Regions from separate parts of the Homo sapiens genome. Here region 2 is linked to region 1. Evidence: fine-mapped expression QTL. A gene starts in region 1. The other region holds a variant in brackets. All regions are shown on one strand. Distances are between the middles of the regions.

Region 1 (2,908 bases):
GCAATACAGCAGTATGCAAGGCACTTACTGTATGCCAAAGCTTATGCCGAGAGCTGGCTGCCAGCAGCTCCTCCTGCCTCGAGGCCTTTGTCCATGTCATCATTTCCCCTTTGGCTGTAACAGCTGCAGTTCTCTCATAATTTTAGGTTTCATCTTAAATGTCACTTCTTCAGAGGCTTCTTGACAGCACAAGTCAGGGCCCTTGTTAGTTTCATCACATCCATTACCTTTCCTTGATCACTTGTACCATCATCTGTAATTTATTTTTATGTTTAATACGGGTGTGGGATTTCTGATTTTTTTTTTTGCTAGACTGGAAGCTCTCAGAGGGCAGGAACCATTTGTTTCCCTGCCACAGAGATGTTCAATAAATATTGTCAATTGAATGTGCAAATAATCTCACTTAACCACAGCTATGAGGGATGCTATTTTATCCCCATTTTAGAGATGACTAAACTGAGGCTTAGAACAATTAACCCAAGGTCACAGTGAATTAGTGGATCCATGTGTCTGCCTCCACACAGCCTGTGTGTTCTTAATTATTGATCACTAAGCAACAGCTGCCTCTCACAAACTGGCAGGAAACTTCAACTTTTCCCTTTTATCAATATATTGTGAACGCCTTTTCTTGCTAATAAATATACATTTGTGTGCGTAATTTTTAATGATCCCATGGTATTCCATCGTGTGGATGTAATTTACATATTCATTTCCTTATTCTCACTTCTTCCTAGTTACAGCACTTCTTTAAGCACTTGTAATTTTTATTCCTTTGGATAAATTCCTAGAAGTTTACAACACGACCAGCTGCAAGATGGGGCAGTGAGGTGCTTGAAGGAGTGGGTGGGCTGCACTTCAGAATCCCGGTGGAACTTTTTCAAAAAACTCGTGCCCGGGGCCCCCCTCTCAGGAGGCCGTCGGTGGGCCTGGGCACTGGCGTGGTTTTCAGGTCCTCAGTGGTTCCGAGGTGCCAGAGATTGAGGACCACTGGAGTAAGCGCGAGGTCACGGCGGGTGCAAAGCAGAAGACGTAAAATCCTGACCGCCCTGGGACAATCTGCAACCTTGTCAAGCCTCCGTGCCCGCCTTTGTAAGGAGGCTGGGAGAAGCGGGACTTGGATGACCCGGACTCCCGTCCCGAGCGCTGGGGTCCAGGTTTGACTCCGCTGGCTTTCTCAGGCGGGCAGGGCGGGGGTAGGCAGCTGGGAAGATGACGTAATGTGCTCCCAGCCAGGCCTGGAGGCGGCCAGCGGTCGCAGGTGGAGGGTGGCCTGTTAACCCTTCACTCCCAGGCCAGTGGACGGACTTGCGTGTGGCGCAGATCCAACGGAGAAGGCAGCGGCTCCTTTAAACAAGGCGGAGAAGGTTAAGATGATGACCGGACGGCTACTCCAGGCATTCGCTCCGAGGCCGCGGGGGGAGGGACCTCACTATGCAAATCTGAGCTGCTGATCGATGACGCGCCATCACCCCACGCACCGCTTCGCTCGCCCATTGGCTGAGATGAGCCTGGTCCCATTGACAACAAACAGGGGGGCGCGCGGCCTGGAGGCGGGGCCGCAGGGGGCGCGGGCTGGGGCGGGGGAATCCCGCCCCGCCCTTTCTGTGCGGCGCCCGGGCGCAACGCAAACATGGCGGCGGGTGGCACCCGTCGGTGAGGCGGTGCCGGGCGGGGGTTGTCGGGTGTCATGGGCGGTGGCGACGGCACCGCCCCCGCGTCTCCCTGAGCGGGACGGCAGGGGGGGCTTCTGCGCTGAGCCGGGCGATGGACGACAGCGGCGAGCTGGGTGGTCTGGAGACCATGGAGACCCTCACGGAGCTGGGCGACGAGCTGACCCTGGGAGACATCGACGGTGAGTGGTGGGTGGGTGGGAGTGCGGGGGCCGCGCGGGGAGGAAGGGGTTACGGCGGCGCGCCCGGGTGCGCGTGCGCCCACCCCCCGACAGCCCCGGTTCGCGCGGGAAGAACCCCGTGCGCACGGTGCCCCCGGCGGTCCTCAACCCTTCCGGCGCTGCGAGCGTGAGCCCGACCCAGCTGCGCCGCTCCGGGAGGCCGTGGGATCTGGGGCGCCGCGGGGCCGAAAGCGGCGCGAGGGTCGCGGGTTCCAGAGCGCGGGGCTAGGGACGTCGCGGGGGCGTCTCAGGGAGCGGCCTAAGGAGAGCGCGTGGCCGCCGCCTCCCTCGCGCGCCCACACGCGGTTTCCGTGGTCCGCTCTCCCGCCGCCCGCGACCGCGCGTCGCACCTGTCACTCCCTTCCTGGCCGCGGGGACGTCTTTGGGATTCCCGGGGCCCAGCCCCCAGTCTCCGCGCCCCGAATCCCTGGGCTTCTCAGGATTGACCGACGGCCAGGTCGCCGGGTGCTCCGCGAAACTTTGGGCAGCGACTGCAGAAGCAAGTTGCTGATGAAGAGAGCAGTGGCGGCGGAGTGTGGACACATCTCTCCGGGATGGAGACCCGGGCGCTCCTGCTGTCACGCTGCAAGGGGAATTGAGCAGAAGAAATTTTGAGTTGTGGCCCCTCGGGTACGGGCTGGGGAGCGGGTGGCCTTTGTTCCAGCGCCTTAACAGCGGAGTGGAAGAGCTGGTAGGAGCCCAGGGATCCACTCTTAAAATACTAATTTTGCGACCACGGGAACAACGATTTGGAGAGGGTCAGCGGCTTGCTCAAGGTCACCCAGCTGGTTAGAGCCTAGTTCTTGCAGTTCCTTGGCCAGTATTGGTTTTTTTATACCCCTCCTTTCAAGAAAGAGTCCAGTTGACTAGGCTAGTAATCTTATTAACTGGATAGTTGCACTCTTATGTTTAGGCCCCAAAATGCTTTGTATTATTTCACTTCTTCCTCACAACAATCCTGTGAGATACTCTTATTACCTCTATTTTAATACGGTAATTAAAGAAGCCGAGGCCAGG
Region 2 (2,908 bases), 45 kb before region 1:
TCCTGTGGCACATCCTTGCACAAGGCTCTGTGCTCTTTAGGGATCAAACATCTATCCTATTATAGCACTTAGCTCTCTGTTTCAAGTTTCCATTTTCATATCACTATTCCCCCAACCAGGCTGTGATATACTCAAGGGCAGAGTCTGGGTCTGGTTAATCTTTGTGTGTCCTTCCCCTTGTGGGTTTAAAGCTAATTTAGAATGCAGGAATCAGATGAGAACCAAAACATAAGCTTTATTGCTGGTAAACATCATAGTAGAATATTGGCTGGGACTCTGGAACAGAATGGGCTTTTTTTTTCCTGCAGTTTTTCAAACATACAGCAATGAGAGAGTTTTACAGTGAACATTCATACACCCAACACCTAGATTCTACTAATAACATTTTATTATACTTGCTTAATCATATCTGTCCAAAATGAGCTTTTTAAAACACCCTCCTTCTTGCCAGACCAGGGGTCCACAGGCGGGAAAAACTGTGTTTGCATTATGGACACTTAGCCAGCTGGCCAGGATCTTAAGAGTTTAAGTTCATGGGAGCATAATCTTTAATACCTTAATCCTGCCCTGATGGCACAGTAGATCTTAAGCTAGTATCTTGCCTGCTAGATAAAACCTTCCTTGGGTGAGGAGGGCCAGTTAGGGAAATGCTTTCTCCCTAATGTTTCTAAAAGCGCTGATGTTCCTGTTTTAAGATTCAGAACAGGAGGTGTGGGGGGAATGATTTCCCAATACCCAGCACAGAGCTTGGCACAAAGTTGGCATCTGGGAATGTTTGTTGAATGGATGAAAACCACAGAAATTAACATTACATGATCCCAGCCATTTAGGCACTCACAGATTATAGGAAACACAAATAACTACATCTAATACCAAAATGACCTATTAGCAGTTGAGCATTCCTAATACAAAAGTCCAAAATCCGAAATGCCCAATGAGCATCTGCTTTGAGCATCATGTTGGTGCTCAAAAGTTTTGGATATGGGGATATTTCAGATTTCAAATTTTTAATTACAGATACTCAACCAGTATTTGTTTTTTTGTTTGTTTTTGAGATGGAGTCTCGCTCTGTCACCCAGGCTGGAGTGCAGTGGTGCAATCCCAGCTCACTGCAACCTCTGCCTCCTGAGTTAAGTGATTCT[C/T]CTGCCTCAGCCTCCCAAGTACCTGGGACTACAGGTACGCACCACAATGCCTGGCTAATTTTGTATTTTTAGTAGACATGAGGTTTCACCATGTTGGCCAGGCTGGTCTCGAACTCGTGACCTCAAGTGATCCACCTGCCTCGGCATCCCAAAGTGCTGGGATTACAGGCGTGCCCAGCCTCAACCTGTATTGGAAGGCTGCACAGGAGAGGTAGCATTTGAACTGGGCCTTGAGTGATGAAAAAGCCTTCTTCAAACCAATAGCCTAAACACTAGGGTGGGGTGCCAGTGAGGTTTGTGGGTTTTGTTTTGTTTTTTTTGAGACATAGTCTTGCTCTGTCACCCAGGCTGCAGTGCAGTGGTATGATCCCAGCTCACTGCAACCTCCACCTCCTGGGTTTAAGCGATTCTTCTGCCTCAGCTTCCTGAGTAGTTGGGATTACAGGTGTGTGCCACCATGCCTGGCTAATTTTTGTATTTTTAGTAGAGACAGGGTTTCACCATGTTGGCCAGGCTGGTCTCAAACTCCCAACCTTAGGTGATCTGCCCACCTCGGCCTCCCAAAGTGCTGGGATTACAGGTGTGAGCCAACGTGCCCAGCCACCAGTGAAGTATTGTATAGCACTTTCACCATTCGCCTCTCATGCCCAAGAGCCTAGGTGTCTCCCTGGCCTGTGACATTCAACTCTGCCTCTGGCAACTGTTTATTTTTATTTTTGAGATAGGGTCTTGCTGTCGCCCAAGCTAGAGTACAGTGGCATGATCATGGCTCACTGCCACCTTAACCTGCTGAGCTTAAGTGATCCTCCCATCTCAACCTCCTGAATAGCTGGGACTACGGGTATACACCACCATGCCCAGCTAATTTTAAAATACTTTTGTATTGGTAGTAAGGCCAGGCGCAGTGGCTCATGCCTGTAATCTCAGCACTTTGGGAGCCAAGACGGGCGGATCACTTGTCAGGAATTTGAGGCCAGCCTGGCCAACAGGGTGAAACCTCATCTCTACTAAAAATACAAAAAAATTAGCCGGGCGTGGTGGCGCGCACCTGTAATCCCAGCTACTTGGGAGGCCAAGGCAGGAGAATCACTTGAACCCGGGAGGTGGAGGTTGCAGTGAGCCAAGATCATGCCAGTGCACTCCAGCCTGGGTGACAGAGCAAGACTCCATCTCAAAAAATAAATAAATAAAAAATAAAATACTTTCGTAGAGATGATATCTCACTATGTTGTCCAGGCTGGTCTTGACCTCCTGGGCTCAAGCAATCCTCTGGCTTTGGCCTCACAAAGTGCTAGGATTACAGGTGTGAGTCACTGCACCTGGCCTTGTTTTAATTGTAGTAAACTATATATAACATACAATTTAGTATTTTAATCATTTTAAGTATATGGGTCAGTGGCATTAAGTACATTCACATTGTTGTGCAACTTTCACCATCATCCATCTCTAGATCTTTTCATCTTCCCAAACTGAAACTCTGTACCCATTAAACAATTCCCCAGTCCCCTCCCCCAGCCCCTGGCATCTACCATTTTACTTGCTATCTCTATGAATTTGACTACTGTAGGGACCTCATGTAAGTGGAATCCTGTATTTGTCTCTCTGGTAGTTTTTGACTGTCTGTCCTCAACAGTCCCTGGGAAGGGGAACCCAACCTGAGAAGCTCATGACTCCCCCTGTAGAAGGTGCTGGGCCTACCCTGCTTATGGGAGGGTATTGCTGAGGAGCCTGTCTTAGCCTCACAGTGACTGCCCTATAATTGCCTA

Evidence for each region. PIP is the estimated chance that this variant, and not a neighbour inherited with it, causes the effect. A credible set is the group of variants that fine-mapping cannot tell apart.
Region 2: its variant is the best candidate, but not a certain one, in a credible set for the expression of SREBF2 in fibroblasts (GTEx, PIP 0.64).

Annotation. Positions count from the first base shown.
Region 1 is chr22:41,831,507-41,834,414 of GRCh38, forward strand. SREBF2 (sterol regulatory element binding transcription factor 2) reads left to right here and starts at 1,599. Exons shown (of 19, transcript NM_004599.4): 1 at 1,599-1,852. The coding sequence starts at 1,765. CCDC134 (coiled-coil domain containing 134) reads left to right here. Exons shown (of 7, transcript NM_024821.5): 7 at 1-658. It overlaps SREBF2-AS1 (SREBF2 antisense RNA 1), which reads right to left. Exons shown (of 2, transcript NR_157279.2): 2 at 1-2,474. RefSeq lists enhancers at 1-126, 953-1,462, 1,068-1,724 and silencers at 1,503-1,842, 1,903-2,292.
Region 2 is chr22:41,786,997-41,789,904 of GRCh38, forward strand. The region is part of intron 26 of MEI1 (meiotic double-stranded break formation protein 1); the gene reads left to right. Among named protein-coding and RNA genes, the nearest start is that of CCDC134, 12 kb to the right of the region's middle. The variant C/T (reference allele first, on the strand shown) is at 1,143.